3 linked regions of the Homo sapiens genome follow. The protein of the gene in region 1 interacts with the protein of each later gene in a biochemical or structural test. Each region holds a gene or a part of one and is shown on either strand. Other genes may lie near its edges. The genes, in order: SAYSD1, RPL26 and UFM1.

Evidence for each region.
Region 2: the proteins of SAYSD1 (region 1) and RPL26 form a complex in vitro, tested with the Homo sapiens proteins (one study listed by BioGRID).
Region 3: the proteins of SAYSD1 (region 1) and UFM1 form a complex in vitro, tested with the Homo sapiens proteins (one study listed by BioGRID).

Annotation. Positions count from the first base shown.
Region 1 is NC_000006.12:39,112,092-39,119,402, forward strand, and holds the start of SAYSD1 (SAYSvFN domain-containing protein 1), read right to left. Parts: upstream 3,096-7,311; 5' UTR 2,999-3,095; coding exon 2,792-2,998; intron 1,630-2,791; exon of another isoform or gene 1-1,629. UniProt on the Homo sapiens protein: Ufmylation 'reader' component of a translocation-associated quality control pathway, a mechanism that takes place when a ribosome has stalled during translation, and which is required to degrade clogged substrates.
Region 2 is NC_000017.11:8,380,108-8,387,041, reverse strand, and holds the start of RPL26 (large ribosomal subunit protein uL24), read left to right. Parts: upstream 1-3,848; 5' UTR 3,849-3,885; exon of another isoform or gene 3,886-4,261; intron 4,262-4,726; 5' UTR 4,727-4,731; coding exon 4,732-4,899; intron 4,900-6,934. UniProt on the Homo sapiens protein: Component of the large ribosomal subunit. The ribosome is a large ribonucleoprotein complex responsible for the synthesis of proteins in the cell.
Region 3 is NC_000013.11:38,345,630-38,352,883, reverse strand, and holds the start of UFM1 (ubiquitin-fold modifier 1), read right to left. Parts: upstream 3,034-7,254; 5' UTR 2,965-3,033; coding exon 2,963-2,964; intron 2,886-2,962; coding exon 2,829-2,885; exon of another isoform or gene 2,770-2,828; coding exon of another isoform or gene 2,657-2,769; intron 1-2,656. UniProt on the Homo sapiens protein: Ubiquitin-like modifier which can be covalently attached via an isopeptide bond to lysine residues of substrate proteins as a monomer or a lysine-linked polymer.

The sequences.
Region 1 (7,311 bases):
CTGATGCATGAAAATTGCTTGTTGAAGAGAGATATTGCCTTTATTGTGTATGTAAGTATACACAATAAAAAATAGGAACCTCGAAAGGGAAAAAGGACATTGAAATTGTTAAAGAAATGAATGATGACCTTCAAGAGACTATAAAACTGAATGGAAAAACATTAACAAAAACAGTATCCCAGTATGGTCAACAGCTTAACGACCTCAAAACTGAGAATACAATGCTCAAGTCTAAACTGGAGAAGGAAAATCAAAACAAGGAAAGACTGGAAGCTGAAGTTGAGTCATTCCATGCTAGACTGGCTGCTGCTATAAGTGAGTGTGATCAAAGTGTGAAAACAAAAAGAGACCTAGAACTTGCTTTACAGAGAGCACAAGACGTTTCTTTACAAGAAAGAAAATGAGTTCTGATATTTCTGAACTAAAAGATAATAATGAGTTTTTAACTGAGCAACTTTCCGAAGCTCGAATTCAATACCCTAAAAAGTAAACTCCATGACACAAGAAATTCTCTCAGAGAAAAGGTTTTGGTTTTATAAAGTGTACAAAAGGACCTAAGCCAAGTAAATCCTTTGGAAAGTGGGACTACGTAGAGGAGAGAATATCTCAACTACAACATGAAAATCTGTTGCTTCAACAACTAGATGGTGCTCATAAGAAAGGGGATAATGAACAAAAGGTAATTAATATCCAAGGATGCTGTCTTGAGAGTGAAAAGGAAGGTCTTCTGCTAGAAGGGAAAAATAAGGAATTAATCAATGAATGCAATCATTTAAAAGACTGTTTCAGTATGAAAAAGAGAAAGCAGAAGGAGAAGTAAGTATCAAAAAAGATAAATATTTTCAAACTTCCAGAAGGAAAATTTAAAATATTTGGCTACGGCTACATGTTGAACCTAGTTGAATATAAAAATTAATAGACAAAAAATGTGTTTACCATACTGTATAATTCCATTTACATGAAACATCCGGAAAAGACAAATGTATAGATAGAAAGCAGACTGACATTTGTGCGGGGCTGGGGTTGGAAATGGGTAGTAACTGCTAATGTGCAAGAGGGGTCTTCTTGGAGTGATAGAGACGTTCTAAAGTTGCAGTGATGGTTGCATGACTCAATAAATTTACTAAAAATCTTTGAACTGTATGTTAAAAGAGATAAATTCTGTAGTATGTAAACCTTATTTCAATAAAGCTGTTTCAATTAAAAAAACAAAAATTAAAAATAATTTAAAAAAATAGAATGCTAAAGAAATCTCTGACAGGCCACAGTGTGCCATCAAAATTGTCTGACATGAATTGTAAATTAGACTTTTTCTTTTCTAAACTAGAGGCAGAATCTGAAGAAAAAAAATTAAATGAGAATTTTCACACCAGAGCAAACCCAGAAATGATAAGTCAATGAAAATGAGCTTAAGGCAGAGTCCCTTATGGAAAAACAGAGCAATTAACAAGAAACTGGAGGTCCAGCATTTCCTCTCATCCTTTTGTCTGGCAATCAGCGTTTGGGTTCTCAATAATGGAAGTTTTTCTCTGAATTCAGTTTCTCTGGGTCCACCTCAATGATCTCATTCCTTTGGAAATGAGACATACAGTCAAAAGTTCATTGCATGGGTTAGACATTGTTTTTTAACTGCAGAGAGAAAAAGAATAAGGGAAATGGTTTCTAAAATCTTAAGCAAGTGTTGTACTTAGAAAGTTCTAGTCAACAATAAAATTATCCAAAGACAATTAACACAAACTGCACACAAGGAAATGGATTGTCTGAACTCTGCTGCGCTCTTTTCACCTTTCTGCAAGTCAGCTGGAATCCTGTATATCACTGAGAATATCAAATCAAAATTGAGTAATAGGTTCAGTAATTTTTAAAAATTCCCTCAAATCAAATGTTGTGCAATAATAGATGAACTTACAGGAAATAATTTTAAGGTGAGCAAGGTACACTTTTCTTCCAGTATATTTTCATTTTAAAAGGAATTTTTTAGTTCTTATTGCACTTATGAGGAACAAAGCACTGGGCACAAATTGTTACAAAGCACTCATCCCTTGATATGTTTTGTCTTGTATTTCCACATAGACATTTCAACCTCACTGCAAGCCACCTTACCATTTTACTGAGTTAAAACTAAATGAAAACACAAAAGGATGCAAATTAAATTCATCTGCAAAACAAGAGATTACCAAAACAATTAAATGTGAAAAGGTTATCATACTAAATCACTTTTTTTTGTTTGTGTCTTGAACATTCACTATGGAACTGGAATAAGCTTCTGCCACTACCGGCAGTTACAGCTACCACACTTTGGTAAATTCTGTATTCAAACGCATTTCTAAGTCACAGGCTATCTGGGCTACTAGCTGCATGTGCCCCAGGTGCGAATCAAATGAAGTTTTAATTACTGCTACTTGTGATCGGTATCCAATTAGACCTTTTACCCTCCTCCATTAGCAGAGGGCTGTGGCTCAACTTGGTTGTGGAGAGGTTTCCCAATGCCACAGGGCGTCACGATAACTCAATTCGGAGTGAATAATTTAAGAGCAGAGGTGCTTTCTCCCAGGACCCTCGACTCTCGCTGGAATCAGGACCTGCGTGGGTCGCGGGCTGGAAAGAAAATGTCAAAACTGGTAACAGTGCTGACACGTGTGGCCGGAGATGAGCGGTCCGGCCCTCGATCAGGATGGGGGGCCAGTAGCCCCGCCTCCGGCAGCTAGGGCCACACCCCCGGCAGCTAGGGCCGCGCCCTCGACTGTGGCTCCGAGGCCAGGTCCTAGGGCCGAAGTTTCCATCGTCTCACCTGAACTAGGCCGGGCTGGGCCCGGGCACTCGCGGGCCTAGGTTTCCATACCAGGAACCGCTTTAGCCAGCCTGGGGCTGCCTTTAGAGTCGCTGCTGCTTCCGCCTTCTCTCCTGGGGTTTGTGCGCCCTGACTGGCAGCAGGGGGTTGGGCCGCCAGACCCGCCCGTTTCCGCGCCGCCCGAAACTCAGCTAACCGCTGTTCCATGGCGCGCGCCTCGCGTCCGTTGGCCGATAAGGGAGCGCGCGCCCGCAGGCCGCACAGCAGTTGCCTCCGCTCGGCCCGCGCCGGCCGCCGTGCGCCTGCGTGGCAGAAGCCCCTGCTGAGCATGCGCACTGGTGTGACCCGCGTCTCCTCCGTTTGTGAAGTCTGGCGGGTCGCGTGTATACTCAGCCGTTCTCTCTTCACAGGCACGTGGACACAGTGTCACCTCCTCAAGCCAAGTCTAAAGCACAGGGCTGCCCCATTGCCCTCTCCCAAAGGCCGCTCTGCCTTGCTGCATCTCACTTAAGGGCTCGAGGCCCCACTGATCCAGCGTCCTGTATTCGGGATCTCTGTTGCTGGGCCCCAATGAACAGCGCCACAGTGAGAAGATGGTTCCAGGGGTTAGGAGAGGCCCGTGATCTCTACGACATTCCAGCGTCAGAGGAATAACAGGCTACATCTTACCCTTTTTCTCTTATCAAGGAAAGGGTATGCCAATCTTAGTACCTGGAGGGTGACTTTCTCACTGCTCACAAAGCAGGCTGTGCAGCTCCATCATTGGTCTTGCCACGTTGGGAAATTATCTCGTTTTGTGTCTAGATACGTCAGAACCTTAAAAAAACCAACAACAAAAACTTTTATTGGGGTGCAACATAAAATACACATCTTAAGAATATGACTCAGTAGATTTGCTCTTATGTATGCACCTGTGTAACTACCACCCAGATGGAGAGAAAGAACATTTCTGTACTCTGGGAGTTTCCTTGTGCCCTCTCCCAATCAGTACCCTCCCAAAAGGACACAGTTCAGGTTAGGGGCTGTTTTATACGTTCTTAAAGCTGTAAGCATCTAGCTAAGTGTCACTTACATAATTAAGACTCAAATATTTGTTGGATCTGGCTGAGGGTGACTCGAGAAATTAGACAAATTAGAACAGAGTCATCCATTCATTTAACAGACGTTTACCTAGGGCCTGCTCTGTCTAAAGTCACAGGCACTGGGGATGCTGGGATGAAAGGAAAAAACAAACAAAAACCTGTTTTCTTAGAGCTTACACTCCAAATGGAAATACAGACAATAAACAAATGTGTATCTACATATTTCATGTCATATCAGGTACTGATAAGTGCTGTGAAGAAAAGTGAAGCAAAGTAGGCAATGGTGGAGGTATTAGAGAAGACCTCCCTGAAGGTTTGTCATTTGGGCATAGACTTAAATGAGTGAGGTATGTAGATATCTGAACAGGAGTGTTTCAGTCAGAGGAACAAGTGCAAAGGTCCCGAGGCCTCAAATAGCACGCTTGACTTGTTCACAGAACATCAGGGAGGCTGTTATGACTGGATTGGAAGGAGGGAGAGGGAGGCAGGGAGGGAGGGAGGGAAGGAGGGAAGGAGGGAGAGAGGGGGAGAGAGGGAGGGAGGGAGGGAGGAAAGAGTGACAGAAAATAAAGATGCCAGGGGCAAGATCGTGCATGTAAGGCCCTGTAGGCCATGGTGAAGACTAAGTGTGGTGGGAAGCAGTTAGTGGATTTTGAGCAGGAGATGATATGATATGACATATTTTTAAAGGATTACACTGGCTGATGGAGGTGGGACCCTGGAAGATTGCAAGAATAGAAGAAGGGAAACTAGTTAGGAATAAATATGGTAGAATGAGAAACTGTAGTAGTTTGAGCTAGAGTGGTAGTGATGGAGGTCACGAGAATTGGTCAGATTCTGAATGTATTTTGAAGACCTGAGCCAACATGGTGTGAGACGGATTGGATGTGGAATGTGAGGAAAAAAGGTATCAAGGATGACAGGGCCAGCCATCGTGGCTCACGCCTATAATCCCAGCACTTTGGGAGGCCAAGGCAGGGGGATCGCTTGAACCTAGGAGTTCAAGACCAGCCTGGGGAACATAGCAAGACCTCATCGCTATTAAAAAAAAAAAAAAAAAAAAAGGATGACAGGTTTCTTCCATTACTACCCCACTCCTCCTGCCCCCCCATATACATACACACATGCCCTGAGCAACCAGGCAAATGATGCTGGGGCCCTCTATTGAAATGAGGGCACACTGGGAGGAGAGAATTACAGAATAAACACTGGAAGTTTTGTTTTGGACATACAAAGAACTTGGGATGCCTATTGGATATCCAAAAAATAGGCAGTTAGATAGTGAAAATGATTTGAGGGGAAAGTCAGGACCGGAGGCACACACTGGGAGTCATCAGCATGTGTATATTTAAAGCTGTAAGACTAGATAAGATCAAACAGTGAGTGTGGATAAGAAGAGATTTGAGGGCTGAGCCCTGAGTGGATTAGAGATGGTTTGTAAGAGAAAAGAATGGGATTATTACACCACAATGTCCTCTCTTTGAGAAACCACAAGAGGAAATTTCTTGCCCATTTTGGTGTCAGGAGTATGTCTGCTTCTCTTGAGAGATGGGATTCTTTAACCGATTTTGTCTCCCACTTGATAATGACTCTAAGACCTTAGGCCCGCATCTTGCAGGTGTATAGAATTAAGGCATACAATTTGTGGGCGGTTGCAGTCAGGGTCCCTGACAGGAAACGTGGCACCTTCCAAAGGGTGAAGTAAGAAGGGCTTAGTGAAGGAGTAAGTTACAAAGGTGTGGCAGGATGAAGGAAGCCAGCAAGGGATGGTTCACAGGAAGTGCTACCTGTCTCTAGGCCCAAAGCATCAGGAGGACAGAGCAGTTATCAGAACCCAGTGAGCCCTGTAGCTATAGGAGAAGCAAGGAGACACAGGAGCCCTTCAGGGAGCATAGAACAGGTAGAGAAGGGTGGAAAGAGGATCAGAAGAGGCAAACAGAACATCCAGGCCAGAGCTAATGTGGTTCCTGCTCTGTCTTGCTTTGGAAACCTTATTTTCTTTTTGCTTTGTTTTATTTATTATGAATTTACTTTTACTTGGTGCTTTGTAAGCCTCTTTAAATCCTTTTTGGAAGAGGTTAAAAGAATAGAAAAAAGAAAAGATGAAAGAGACCATCATGAAGAACAACTCCTGCCAAGCCAACTTTATTTCCTCTTTGGACGGGATTATGAGACTAGTAAATAAGAAGGGTCCCCAAAATGTGCTTAATGTGTGAATTTCATTAATTTTTATTATGAAATATTTTGTAAATGCCACATTTTACATATATATAATGTATATGCCATATACATAACATATATAATGTGTATGTGTCATACATATAAGTTATAAATAAAATACCCACATGATATGGTTTGGATCTGTGTCCCTGCCCAAATTTCATGTCAAATTGTAATCCCCAGTGTGGAGGTGCGGCCTGGTGAGATTGGATCATGAGTTTTTTTCTAATGGTTTAGCACCATCCTCCTAGTGCTGTCTTGTGATAGAGTTCTCACTAGATCTGGTTGTGTAAAAGTGTGTGGCATGGCTGGGTGCAGTGTCTCACGCCTGTAATCCCAGCACTTTGGGAGGCCAAGGCAGGTGGATCACTTGAGACAAGGGGTTTGAGACCAGCCTGGCCAACATGGTGAAACCTTGTCTCTACTAAAAACATAAAAATTAGCTGGGCATGGTGGCACACGCCTGTAATCCTAGCTACTCGGGAGACTGAGGCATGAGAATTGGGTGAACCCAGGAGGTGGAGGTTGCCGTGAGGTGAGATCGTGCCACTACACTCCAGCCCGGGCAACAGAGCGAGACCCTGTCTTGGAAAAAAAAAAAATTGTGGCACTTTCCTGCCCCTTCTCTCTTCCTCCTGCTCCAGCCATGTAAGACCTGCATGCTTTCCCTTCACCTTCTGCCATGATTATAAGTTTCCTGAGGCCTCCCCAGCTATGCTTCCTATATAGCCTGCAGAACTGTGAACCAATTAAACCTCTTTATAAATTACCCAGTCTCAGGTGTTTCTTCATAGCAATGCAAGAATGCACTAATACAGGCCTTGTTATAGAATTGAGTCATTGGCCCGATTCTATATTCCTATCTGTATCCACGCCGTAAAAGGCAGAGTAGACTTCCCCATTCCTTGACTGTAAACTCAGCCATGCAGATTGCTTTGGCCAAATGGGATGATGGCAGAAACTACGTGAGCAGGAACTTGAAGTGTGTTTGTCCTGTTAAATAAATTCTCTTAATATTCCACATTTCCATGAGATGAACTTGCAACAGCTAGCCAGCTAATCCAAGAATAATGAAAGACATCTAGGTTGTGGTCACCTGGCTGACCCAGAGACTTGCAGTTTAAAGCTGAGCTGCCCAACTGAGCACAGCCTCAAATAGCTAACCCCCAGCTTACCCTAAAATGTATGAAAACAAATGCTTATTTTACATAACTGAAA
Region 2 (6,934 bases), on another chromosome or scaffold:
ACATCTGTCTCCTCCTTAACGAAGTGCTCCTTCCGGGGAGGCTAGATCTTATAGATCTTGGTATCTCCAGTGCCTGACACAGAATTTAGTAAACAGTAAGAGCTGGAGAAATATTTGGAGAATGAGTGAATGAATGAATAAACCTGACAGCTTGGTGTTTAGAAAAAAGTTAAGTCTAATCAACTCTGGGTGTGGAATCTAGCTATAATCCCTGCTTTGCTATGTCTGAAGGCTTCAAAATGATCCTAAAGGGACCTTTTTCAAATCCAGGAAGAGGAATGTGGGCAGCGAGGGAGAGAGAGTGCAGTCAGACTAGGCTGCAGGGTGAAGGCAAGACACCCAACAGACACGTTAAGAGAAAGGGGGCCGGGCACGGTGGCTCACGCCTGTAATCCCAGCACTTTGGGACGCCAAGGCGGGCGGATCACGAGGTCAGGAGATCGAGACCATCCTGGCTAACACGGTGAAACCCCGTCTCTACTAAAAATACAAAAAGAAATTAGCCGGGCATGGTGGCGGGAGCCTGTGGTCCCAGCTACTCGGGAGGCTGAGGCAGGAGAATGGCGTGAACCCGGGAGGCAGAGCTTGCAGTGAGCCGAGATAGCGCCACTGCACTCCAGCCTGGGTGACAGAGCCAGACTCCGTCTCAAAAAAAAAAAAAAGAGAGAAAGGGACGGCCAGGCGTGGTAGCTCACGCCTGTAATCCCGGCACTTTGGGAGGCCGAGGCAGGCAGATCACTTGAGGTCTGGAGTTCGAGACCATCCTGGCCAATGTGGTGAAACCCCATCTCTACCAAAAATAAAAAAATTAGCCAGCCGGGAGTAGTGGCTCATGCCTGTAATCTCAGCTACTCAGAAGGCTGAGGCAGGAGAATTGCTTGAACCCAGGAGGCAGAGGTTGCAGTGAGCAGATATTGCGCCACTGTACTCCAGCCTGGGTGACAGAGCGAGACTCCGCCTCAAAAAAAAAACAAAAAACAAAAAAAAACAGATAGGGACGTTCTAACTAGGCTACTGGCCATTTGCATCTGTATGGACAATTTGTACCCTGCAAATTTTCACATTGTATCAAGTGTCATGCTGTATGGATGGTGGGCTGAAGGTTTAATTTTTTTTTTTTTTGAGACAGAGTCTTGCTCTGTCTCCCAGGCTGAAGTGCAGTGGCATGATCTCCACTCACTGCAAGCTCCGCCTCCCAAGTTCATGCGATTCTCCTGCCTCAGCCTCCCGAGTAGCTGGGATTACAGGTGCACACCGCCACGCCCGGCTAATTTTTTTTTTTTTTAGTAGAGATGGGGTTTCGCCATGCTGGCCAGGCTGGTCTTAAACTTCTGGCCTTAACTTCTGACCTCAAGTCTGCCTGCCTCGGCCTCCCAAAGTGCTAGGATTACAGGCGTGAGCCACCATGCCCGGCCTGAAGGTTTCATTTTGAGACTCGGTATTGAACAGAGGGAGAAAGAAAGGAAGGCCTGGGAGGGTAGGGTGTCAGCAGAGGATGTGAGGGCTGAGGAAACAGAGAGGGCCTTGGTGGGAAGACAGGAAGACGATGGGGACACCCGAACAGGAAGGGAGTTGGGAAACTAGTAAGGACAGTAGGAAGAAAGAGAAGGAGTGACAACGTGAAGGCCAGAAAGGCAAGGCAAGGAAGGAAGGCAGGCACCTTCGGCAGCTCCCTAGGACTTCCAGACCCAAATCACACTCAGCTCAGCCCTAGAGCCCCTGGGCTCCCGTCTAAATGCCTCTCTTCAGCGGCAAGGACCTGGTTCCTGGAAAACACGAGTCACGCTGCTTCACACCTCCAAGCCTTCCTTCAAGCAATTCCTACTGCCTTGTGGAGCGAATGCTAACATTCTTCCAATTCCAGTCAATGCTGACCTCACCTCAGAAGTCTTCCCTGACCCCAGAGCTCCCTTCTGCTCCTGAATCACAGAGACAGCAAGGGCAGCTGGCTCAGCGAGCACTTTTCCTGTGGTCTCGTGGCTGTTGATTCCCTTGTCTATCTTTTCTTGTAGACAGTAAACTTCCTGAAGGCACAAACTTTGACCTATTTTGCATCGCCAGTGTCTAGTTTCAGGGCTGGCCCAGGAAAGAAGCCTCATAAATATTTGTTGAAAAGAGTCGCAGCAGAGGAATTCTTGCTGAATTTTTCAGTGATGAATAAAATCTAGGGCTACTTCCTTCACAGCATATTTAAGAACACAACTATTTTTAAATCATGAAAACGCATGTTCGTTGCTGACCATCCTCTGGGCAGTCCTGACTATGAGGTTCCCACAAATTGGGGCCATATACAGTTCCCAGAAGAGGCCGGGGAGCCAGCCTGCACGGGTTCTGCTGTGACTTATGGGTCCTGTATAACCTTGCACCAAGTTCCTCTCATTTCTCTGTGGCTGAGTTGCCCAATCTGTAAAATGGGGACAATAATACCAGCAACAACAGAGCCATTTTGTGGATTAAAAGAATTCATGATGTAAAGTGTAGAGAAGAGCGTCCCCACACTCAGAAGGCTCACTACGTCTTCGGTATTCTTGTGAAACGCCTGTCCTCTGTCACTGTGACACCCGTGTCATTCATTCAGCAGAAGCCGTTCAGCGCCGGTGCCTGCTGCACTGCCGCTGCCTCAGAAACCATTTGCAGGGGCCGGGCGCGGTGGCTCACGCCTGTAATCCCAGCACTTTGGGAGGCTGAGGCGGGCGGATTGCCTGAGGTCGGGAGTTCGAGACCAGCCTGGCCAACATGGTGAACCCTCGTCTCTACTAAAACTACAAAAATTAGCCGGGCGTGGTGGCGGGCGCCTGTAATCCCAGCTACTCAGGAGGCTGAGGCAGGAGAACCCGGGAGGCGGAGGTTGCAGTGAGTGGAGATCGTGCCAGTGCGCTCCAGCCTGAGCAACAAGAGCGAAACTGTCTCAAAAAGAAGAAAAAGACACACACACACACACACACACACACACACACACACACACACACACACACACACACACACACACACGAAGAAGAAGAAAAGAAACCATTTGCAGGGAGCGCACGGCTTCCGTCTGGTCCTGAACTGGACGCAAACAGGCCGAGCATTTAGAAACCCGCGCAGCTCCCCGCACCGAGAGGCTTCCTCTCGCCTGGCTCCTTCGAAGCGTGGTCTGGACCAGCACCTCCCACAGCACTGGGGGCGCCTTGGAAACGCGGCCTTGGACCTATTTCCGCGGGGGCAGGCGGCGATCGGTGGCCCTGGTCCTCGCAAGGCCCCTCACCACCCAGAACTGAATCTCTGGCGGGCCCTGCTGTGCGGTCAGCAGACGCCCAGGTGCAGGGGCGGTGGCCGGCGTCGCGGTGGAGCTCGTTAAAGTACCGGCACGCTGGCCGCGCCCACGCCACGGGCGGGAGGGGACGGTGAGTGCAGGGACCCAGGCGACCGGCCGGCCGGCGTCCCCGCGCCTCCTGGCGGCCAGAAGCAGGGCCTGCGCTTCCCCGGCTAAGGGGTGCCGGCCCCCGCCCCGGCACCTGGGAGTGAAGGTACCAGCGGGTCTCCTGGGCGGTCTCCTGGGGCCGCTCGTTCCTTCATCACCCCCAGGGGCAGTTGGACCCTGAGCAGCCTTAGCCAATAGCCCCGGGACTACCCTTCCCAGAGGATTCAGCGGCAGCACCCGGGTCTCGGAAGGGAGACACTAGGACCTGGAGGAGGGGAGTTTTGCAATCCCTCGCAGTTCCCCTCCTAGCCACTAGGTGACACTAGCCATAAATTTATTTCCCAGTTTACTCCCCTCGCTCAAACTCCGCGCCCCTCTCGCTCCGAGAGACATAGGTCTCGCGAGATCTTTGGTAAACTTACAGAACCGGAAGCAGCGTGTAGTTCTCTTCCCTTTTGCGGCCATCACCGAAGCGGGAGCGGGTAAGGATTCGGCGGGCAAGCGGGTGTAATCAGCAGCCATCCGTTCTTGGGCATGGTGGCTTCCGACCGCGGGGACCCCGAGAGTCTCTTGTCGGCCGAGTAGCAGCCAGGAAGGAGAGACTGGGATGGTTTTTTATCTGTTGCTTTCTTAAATCAAGGGCCGCCGGGCCGGAGATGGATGGAGGGACCGGGGATTTGGGAACTCGAAAACGAGCTGAGGGAAGGGAGCCTGTGGAAATAGACTGGAGTCTGGGTAGTGTCGTTTCCTAGAGAATGGTCTCGAAGTAACTTCTCGGTAAAGTCTTCACGGAATTTCCAGACCACACTTGCCCACTGGGAGGCTTTTAGGACCCGAGACGTGTGCAGGCTTTTCCAGGTTCGGGTTGGTGGGCCTTATTCATTTTGGCGGGGCTATACGTATTCACTCTTAAGCCTGTAGAAGATGAACGTTGATTGTACCTTCTAAAACGTGAGGTTATAGTTAAGAGAATTGCGTTGTCGGTCTGCTCAGCAGAGATGTAAGTCCAGTCTTGATTTCCTCAGGCACTACTTGAGGAGTTGGGAGAGTGTAACTAAAAGGTCTTATAACTAGGACAAGTGTTTTTGATGCAAAAGTCTTTAGTCCGTAAACATATACAGAAAACACCCGAATAAAACAAAAAATAAAAAGTTTCGAGCTTCGGTTGATAGGCCCTTCCGATCAAACAGTTTTTGTTGAAGTTGCACAACATGACACTGCCTATGATCATTCTAGACTATCAAGATAAAATCATTGCGGTTATTTGTTTGGAAGCTGGATGAGATTTTGGTCATTTAAGAGTCTTTTTAACTTTTTATTTAGCCAAAATGAAGTTTAATCCCTTTGTGACTTCCGACCGAAGCAAGAATCGCAAAAGGCATTTCAATGCACCTTCCCACATTCGAAGGAAGATTATGTCTTCCCCTCTTTCCAAAGAGCTGAGACAGAAGTACAACGTGCGATCCATGCCCATCCGAAAGGATGATGAAGTTCAGGTGTGTATCCCTACTTGTTCTCGTTGTCTTGATGGATATTTTACGCACTTAGCTTAGAAGAGAGATTGCATTCCTGAGAAAGATGCTTCTGAGACTCTTGCTCCCAAAGAGTGGCAAGATGAGTTGAGCCAGGGACCAAAAAACAGTAAGTAAGCTGCTTTTCAGTTTTTAATTGTATTATTTGGTGAAAATCTTTTTTTTTTTTTTTTTTGAGATGAAGTCTCGCTCTTGTCCCCCCCAGGCTGGAGTGCAGTGGTGCCATCTCAGCTCACTGCAACCTTCGCCTCCCGGGTTCAGGCGATTCTCCTGCCTCAGCCTCCCGAGTAGCTGGGATTACAAGCGCCCGCCACCACGGCTCGGCTAATTTTTGTGTTTTTAGTAGAGGCGGGGTTTCACCATGTTGGGCAGGGTGGTCTCGAACTCATGGCGTCAGGTGATCAGCCCGCCTCAGCCTCCCAAAGTGCTGGGATTACAGGCGTGAGCCACCGCGCCCGGCTGAGATGGGGTCTCACTCTTACCCAGACTGGAGTGCAGTTGCGTGGTCATGGCTCTTGTGGGCTCAAGTGATGCTCCCATGTAGGACCTTTTTTTTGTTTCTGTAGAGAGGGGTCTCACTTTACTGCCCAGATTGGTCTCCAACTCCTGGGGATCCTGCCCGAAAATCAGTTTCCTCAAACGTCAGATGATGTGACCATAATTAGGTGACATAATCAGAACATTGCTTTGGGATTAATCCTTTTATCAATATATTGTGACTACCCAACAGGCTCATTTTGCCTGCTGTCCAGATAGAGCCGATTTATCTAGACAGGAATTGCAATAGAGAAAGAGTTTAATTCATGCAGAGCCAGAACGAGAGACCAGAGTTAACTACTCAAATCATTCTCCCGGAAAATTTAGGGATGGGAGTTTTTTTAAGGATAATTTGGCAGGTAGGGGGCCAGGGAGTGGGGCGTGTTGACAGGTCGTATCAGAGATGAAGGCATAGGGAGTTGAAGCTGTCTTCTTGCTCTGAGTTGGTTCCTGGATGGGGGCCACAAGATCAGATGAGCCAGTTTATTGATCTGGGTGGCACCAGCGGATCCATCAGTGCAGGGTCTGAAAAAAAAAAATCACACAAATCTTAGGCTTTACAGTGTGTTATCCCTAGGAGCAATTGGGGAAGCCTCTAGCTGCCTAAACTGTAATTTCTAGTCTTGCAGCTAATTTGTTAGCCTACAAAGGCAGTCTGGTACCCAGGCAAGAAGGGGGTTTGTTTCAGGAAAGCACTGTTAGCATCTTTGTTTCAAAGTTAACCTGTAGACTAAGTTCCTCCCAAAGTTAGTTTGGTCTATGCCCAGGAATGAACAAGGACATCTTGGAGGTTAGAAGCAAGATGGGAGTTAGGTCAGTTCTCTTTAACTGCTGTAATTTTCTCACTGTTGGCAATTTTTGGAAAGGAGGTTTCAATGTTTGGTCATTGAAGAGGCAGTTGAGGACCAGTAAACAGAATTGCTCCCAATCTAGATTCAGGAGCTGTAACTGAAGCACAGTCACGTTATCGTTTGCACTTACAGGTAAATAATTTGTTGCATCTATTTAGGTGAAGGTTTCTATAAATGACCCTTAGGTGTAATCTGTAGTGCAGCTAGTGATTAAAGAATTCAGGCAGTCTCTAAAGCCATTTACATACACACCATCAATATTTTTTCATGCCTATTTCAAAAAGATGAAATGGGTTCCCAAACAAGCAGTGTGGGTTGAGAACAGCCGTTGGTCCCTGCTGCAGTAGTGCTAAACTTGCCAGTAGACCTTGAAAACTGTCATCTCTGTTTTCAATACATACCAATGCAAGAAAGTCACAAACTGGGAAGAAGAATCTGTTCAGAAATACTTGTCCTCACAAACTGAGGACCACTGGGATTCCTGTCCACTAACCTTTGGGAAAGAATTGGTTTGTTCCGTTAAGCATTTGTTGCTGCCCTCTGACTAGCACTAGGTTGCACACATTAATGGGTTCAGATTTAAATACTCTTGGTCTGTTGCTGCTTTTGAG
Region 3 (7,254 bases), on another chromosome or scaffold:
AATTGGAGAACTTCTAAACCCTTGGAGTTCAATTCACTTTTAAATCGGAGACTTGGAAATGTCCTTACAATATACCTAGATGTCATACTGATGCTCATTAAAATAAGTTTCTATCTGTATATTAAGTTGGTGAGTGTCCACAGACAAGCCAATAAAAACAAATCAAAAATGAAAACATCTTTTAATGCAAGTTCTAACTGGCAGAAAATTAGAAAAAATGAGAGTTACAGTGACTCCACAGATCTTATCTAGATTTAAAGTTGTATTTGCCAGTCATTTCATAAAATCGGTACTTAAATTATCCCAGTGTTTTGAATAAATTTACATTAATGAGAATTTTTGAAGTAAATTACTGGCATCATTTGTTTTTTAAATAAATATATAAACAAAATAATAACATAAATTGGTAAGAATTATTATAAAGACTAAGTCCACAGGTAACTCAAGAAGGGCGAGATTAACTCTGTGGACAATTAGAAAAATCTTTGGCCAGAAGGGGTGGCTCACGCCTATAATCCCAGAACTTTGGGAGGCCGAGGTGGGCAGATCACGAGGTCAGGAGATGGAAACCATCCTGGCTAACACAGTGACACCCCGTCTCTACTAAAAATACAAAAAATTAGCTGGGCAAGGTGGCACACACCTGTGGTCCCAGCTATTTGGGAGGCTGAGGAAGGAGAAGAACTGGGAAGGCGGGCGTTGCAGTGAGCCAAGATCGTGCCACTGCACTCCAACCTGGGCAACAGAGCGAGACTTTGTTTCACAAAAAAAAAAAAAAAAAGAAAGAAAGAAAAAAAAACAAACTTCATAGAGGTGAGATTTTTATTACTATAAAATATGTTGTGATCATGAGACTGCATTCTAAGCACAGAAAAGAACATGTGTAAAGGAAGCAAAGATTAAAAGGGCAAGCTTGTCAAGTACCCAAGTACTAGTTACCATGTACTTTGAAAAGAAAATATAGCACAGATACCCTTGTACACACATTTACACGTTATGTGAATTTTCCACACACACATCCTTATACACATACACACACAACTACACACGCACACATACATACTAAACAACAGTTGTACCTACTAAATTCATTCAGTCACCACATATTAACTGAACTGGTACAATGTTCCAGGCTCTTAATGTTATTGTCCTACTCTATCATTTTCTTCCTTCCTTCTCACGCTCTCTTTCGAGTACATTTGCATATTGATGAGAATAATCCAGTAGAAAGGGAAAAACCAATCATGAGGAGAGAGGGGGCACTGGACTCCATCTACTTTAACCTTGACAAGACTGAAATAGATGGGAACTATAGCTCAAGTGGTTTTTCATAGGAGTGAAGTCATTTTTTCCATTCTAACAGGATGGGAAATTAACGGATTTATCCATGTAGTGGTAGGTTTACATTGGTGTAAAGATGATAGAATTTCCCTCTGATGGCTTGATAGCAAGGGAGACAGCAGCTGTGGAAAGTTTGAAATTTTTAAACAATCTTTTCTGAGAATAAGGAGGAAAATGAGCAAACTTGAAGAATGTATTAAGTACTAGGTACTATTAATTGTAGTCATGAATTTAATGTAAACCCTCCAGTCTGTTATTTTCTCCAGGGGCAGTCAGCTATGTACAGATAATACAAACAGCTGGTTTCAGAGTTGGTGTTTCACTAACCAAAATATGCTGAGAGGAGAGACAGGGCCACCAGAGTTGAGGGTGTTTGCATGAGAATGATTTAAAGGTGGACCAATGGACTCTTAACTATATAAGGAGTAAGGTAAGGAATAGAAGTGGGGATAGCTACAGATAAAAAATCACTGTGATTAATGGATTAAATGAAACGTTGTAGATGAGAAATTATAGTAAATCATGTAGGAGAGAATGTATTTATCCATAAGAGTGCCTGTAAACGACATCTCAGAGATGGAGCAATTATTGGAATCTTAAGGTTCTAGGCTGCAACCATGAACACCTGAGATAAAGTGTAACAGGGATATTTTGGAGATGAAAAGATCAAGGGAGGAAAAGGCTGAGAGGTTGTACGGATCATGGATTGGTAAATCATTGAAATTTATCAGTCAGCTAGGTAGGCCAAGGTACTAATTAATTATGCAAAAAATTCTATTGTAATCCTGTTCTTTGCTACATTTCATGCTACTTCCAACTGCAATAACCTCAAGAGTGTTTACTTAAAATCTATCACTCAACTGCGAAGGATAAGTAAAGGCCCCACATGGATAAACTATCCCCTATCTGCATTTCCCATTCCTACCAAATACTCTATTAAATCCCAGCATAGGAAGGGTGTGATCTGAGTCTCATTACTTTGTGATGCCCGACTGCTGAGTTACTCATACACAACGAAACTCAGAAGCCGCGGAATAACAAATGTTCAAGTAATTTCAAAGTCTTGACTATCAAGATGGAATGTCTTCCTTAACTTCCTCAACCAGCTGGCCAAAGCGGTGAAACGCTTTTCTAATATCCAGCAGATGGGGACTGTTTAAGAATCCCAACAAATTACCAGAACCTGGTCCACCTGTCCTCCCGCGCCACCTGCCCACCAAATGAATTCCGAGGGGAGGTCACTAATCAGAAACACACCCACACCCTCGTGACGGGGCCAAGCTGCCAAGCTGACACTTAGCGAGCAAGTACGGACCTCTCCTCGCAGGCTCCGGTGGGAAAGGCTCCTGGAAGGGCGCGAGCCAGGAAAGTAGATGAAGTGAAGAGATGAAGACTGCGTGGGGTAGTTGTTGGAAAAGCTCGGATCATCCCCAACCCAGCCCCGTCTTGTCCGGCCCCAAAAGGCCCATCTCGGCCGAGCTACTCACACTTTGTACGGCAGCCGTGGGTCCGACGTCAGCGTGATCTTAAAGGAAACCTTCGACCTGAGGAAAAGAGCGGGAGAGAGTCAGGGTCGGGCAGCTGGACCAGGAATTATGGCAGTCGGTAAGCAAACACTTACATGGTGGTGCCGGAATGAATCCAGAACACACGACAACTCCGCGGGGGTAGCACGACTTCCTCTAGTGTGCTGGGGACCGCCCCGCTCCACTCACGTCCACGTCTCCCTCTGCAATCTGGGGACCTCCGAAGTTGTTGCTATCCAACGCACTGCCTGAAAATTGGCCCTAAGAGCTCATGCTAGATGGCGCTTTTAAATTACAAATATCTTGTGCTTTTGCGTTTATATATCTAAGAAAAAAGTATGGATTATATTTATAAGATATCTTTCTAACTTTGGTAATTTGCTACCATATTTTTAGTCAGGCAGAATAAGCGTGGGCATAGAGCGTAGGACCCTAGGTTCCAGTTGGCAGGTTGGGGCGGAAGTAAGGGTATGGGGTAGTCGGATGAAGAGCGAGATGGACTTGGGGCGAAGCTCGGGGCGAGGCCGGGGGCGGGGCTGGGGCGGACGCGCTCTAAAGTTTCTAAGGCAACCTGAGCGCGGAAAAGCTTAATTGGTGCTCCAGAAGCAGGAATTGTAACACTGCTTTATCATTAGTTTTCTTCCGTCTTTCCAGCAAACCAATCCTGTTATATCCTTTACATTTCTCATAGTTTCTCCTTCACGCTTTACTTTCCGATACTGATTTATAACTATTGAATTTCGGTTAAGTAAGAGAGCTATCAAGTACGAATTATCTATGCCAAGACTCCCGCTGGGGTGGGTGAGAAAAAATGAGGTTTCTACGTTTGGGGAACGTGGCGTCTAGTTGGGAAGACACATCTATGAACAGGAGATTTCAGTAATTTGTTATATGGTCTAATTAAACCAGTGCGCTGAGTTGCTAATCACTGACCACATTTATTCAATTTAACAACCAACTTTGAACCCTTTCTATTTGCCCGGCGCTAAGCTAAACTCTGGGGAATCCAAGATGAGTAAGGCAGGTAGGCGTCAACTCTCTAGGATCTAACATCCTGTGTAGTGATGACGGAAGAAAATTGTCCTCTAAACTTTATTACAGATCTAAACCTCTGTGTTTGGAAAATATGCGTCTGTCTCACAATGACTGAAATGCCCTTTTAAAACATTAGCATGAATAGACAAAGGAGGAAGCAGGTAGGCATTAAAATAATGGGGCAATCTAGTTGATCTTTAGAATATGCATCAGATTCTTAAGGAGAGATACTTAAGAGAGGAACCAGGAAGGAACTGTAGTAGGGATAATGGAGATCAAATTCATCTTTACAATAATTTTGCAGCCAACTGATCTTCTATGGTGACATTTCCCAGTGGAGAGAGTTCTGGTTCTGAGTAGGCAAGTAAGACTCCAACATTCTCATGACAGCCATCCTCACTTTTTAAAATAATGGTCTTACCATATATGTAGATGAAGCCAAATATTGATTGACAGATACAGGGATCAACAGTTACAGCCTTAATAGCTGAAACTATTCAATTAGTGGGTGTGACTAAAACTTGTGAGAATAGTAATAAGGATAAAACTGTGATTGTGTCTACCTATTGTCAGCTAGCCAAATAATAATGAAAGAGATGAGTGTACATATTTACAGTCTATAAGACTACATATAATATATTTTGAAACAAAATTTGCATCCTGCTATTTATAGTTTGGTTTCTGCTCATGAATCAAAACGTGGCAAAATCCTAAAGAGAAAAATGGATATTAATCAGAGAGCTTTTATTGTATGTATAAAAAGTGGTGAAAACAGAATTCAGTCCCACAGTGTGACTTTAGTACTCAGATTCTGCTGCTTCAGAAAATACATTTGTATAATATATCAAAATAACATCTCTTGAGATATTAAAAAGCAGCTGTTTCTAAATATTTAGAATTCTTTTTCACCTCAGTCCCCAACTCTGCTTCTCATGTTTGTCTCCTCAGAGTCACAGCATGATTTCTGCAGCCTCCTGAGTTTTATTTTGCTTAGGACAAGAAAGAAATTATAAATGGATTTATTTATAATCAATTTTTTTAACTTTGTGAAGGGATTTGCAATTGGAAAATTTTATAGCAAAACAAGGACCTTCTCTTTTACTGAAAAGTTAAAATGTTGAAGTACGTTTAATGGCTGTAATCAGAAGCAAACTCTGGAGCAAATTTTTGGAGATAATTGGCAATGGAACATTTTAAGACAACAAATAGCATAAATGGCCTAATGTGTTTTGGAAAAGATCCAATTAGTATCATGTAGAGGCAGAAATGACTGTAGAAGTGCACAGTGTGACCATGTTAGACCTCATTAAATGTCAATGAAGCATACCAATATTCTATTTGCAAATGCATATAAATTTCCCATTATTAGAAGAAAGCCAGAAGGAAATTAAATTTACATAAGGACTAAAAAGATTTGCTTCCATAGTCATAGAAATTCTTCTGACTAGTTATTTTTATAGCCAACTTTATTTTTTATATTCCTCTGGATGCCAAAAAAAATTCTTTCATTTTCACCATAATTTGATTGTATTTACGATTATGACTAGAACCATCTGATAGTCAAATTATGTAATCTTGAAACATCTGCACCTGAATAAATCTTAAGGTGTTCTATTCCAAATACTTTATATTACAGGGAACAAATTATAGACTGATCAATTAATAATTGACTGGTATTTTAATAGTACTTTAATTTGTTCATTTTTTTCTATTGCCTTTTCTCCCCTCAAAATCCACTAAAAGGCATTGATATAATTGAAGCAATGATAATAATGACTCAAAATTCATTAAGATTTATTTTTGGCTGGTATTAACCACTTTGTACAAATCAATGACAAAATATAGACTTTAAACTTTGATGCCTTGGCTATAAGTCATAATTTAGTGACAAGAAGCCTTATACAAAGAGGAGAGAGTGGATTTGGTTACAGAAGTACTTGGGAATATGTAAATGCTGTGTTATTTTTCAAGGTAAGGACTAGAAGGTTAGAGAATATTTACATTCCTTTGAGTCAAAAAGAACAATGAAACCCAGGTGAGATCGGAGCCTAGCAAGTCCAGGCAAGCCCTTACAGAAGACTATAGCTCTAAATGTGCTACATTTGATTGTTACAGTTACATATTTTTCCCAAATATTTTCTAAAATTCAGTGAGAAAAAGAAATGACTTTTCTACGAAGCTCATTGACTACAATGTTTCTAAATTTGAGGCTTAATCACAAAACGTGGAATATTTTAACCACAGAATTTGTAAAATATCTTTATTACAAAATGGCATTTTGAACTGTGAAAAACAGGAATTTAACAGTCTGGTATAATTAAATTTTCTCTCTAAATATTGTGCGAATTCTTCATTTAATGGAAACATTACTTTTAGAAAAACTGAAGTAGCCTCTGACAAATCCATTTCAACCATGAGTTTTTTTTTTCCACATTTACATATTTTTATCCTTCCACCAGCTAAATGAGGTAAATATTAATGTTCTATTTTTACTTTTCTCTATTAACTTAAGGTTTTCTGATTCAAGTTGAGATTTTTAGATCCATTTGTAGTTTCTCCCCACATGACTCTTCTTGCAGTTTTATGTAGAATACAGGCTTCAGAGGACTGTGACGTCTGGTCCTTTGTCATCATCTCTCCATATTCTCAGTGATATTTGTGTCCACTCCAAACATCTGAGACACATGACATCTCATTTTTGTCTGGTGATATCACTCCTTTTTGTGTGCTGGCAAGACGACTTTAGGACTGTTTGTTGTCTCTAAGGGATGTAAGAAAAGTGCCCTCTTGTACCACCCTGTGGCTATAGGGAACCCAGAAGAGCTCAGACATCTTTGACTAAAGATAACATGTTTTCTCCCTAGAATGAAGGGAACTTTGTTGTCTTCCTGGGCTTCAATGGGAGCAGGAACTGGGCATCTTTTCTCTGATTCTGAAATTCCCTAGAGATTGTTTCCCTAGGGATGAAGGAATAGGGCCATATTTCGGGGAGACCTTACAATGTTTATCATTTTCTTCTCCTCCTTTCTCCAGCCCAGAGTATTTTTTTATAGACTTTATTTTTTAGAGCAGTTTTAGGTTCACAGCAAAATTGAGCAGATAAAGATACTTCCTATCCCTATATATTCATAGCCTCTCACATTTTCAACATCCTTCAGCAGAGTGGTACGTTTATTACGGATGATGAGCCCACATTGACACATCATTATCACCCAGAGCCCATAGTTCACATTAGGGTTAACTCTTGGTGTTGTACATTTTATGGGTTTAGACAAATATACATTGACATGTATCTACCATTATAGTATCATACAGAATAGTCCACTGCCCTGAAAGTTCTGTGCTCCACCTA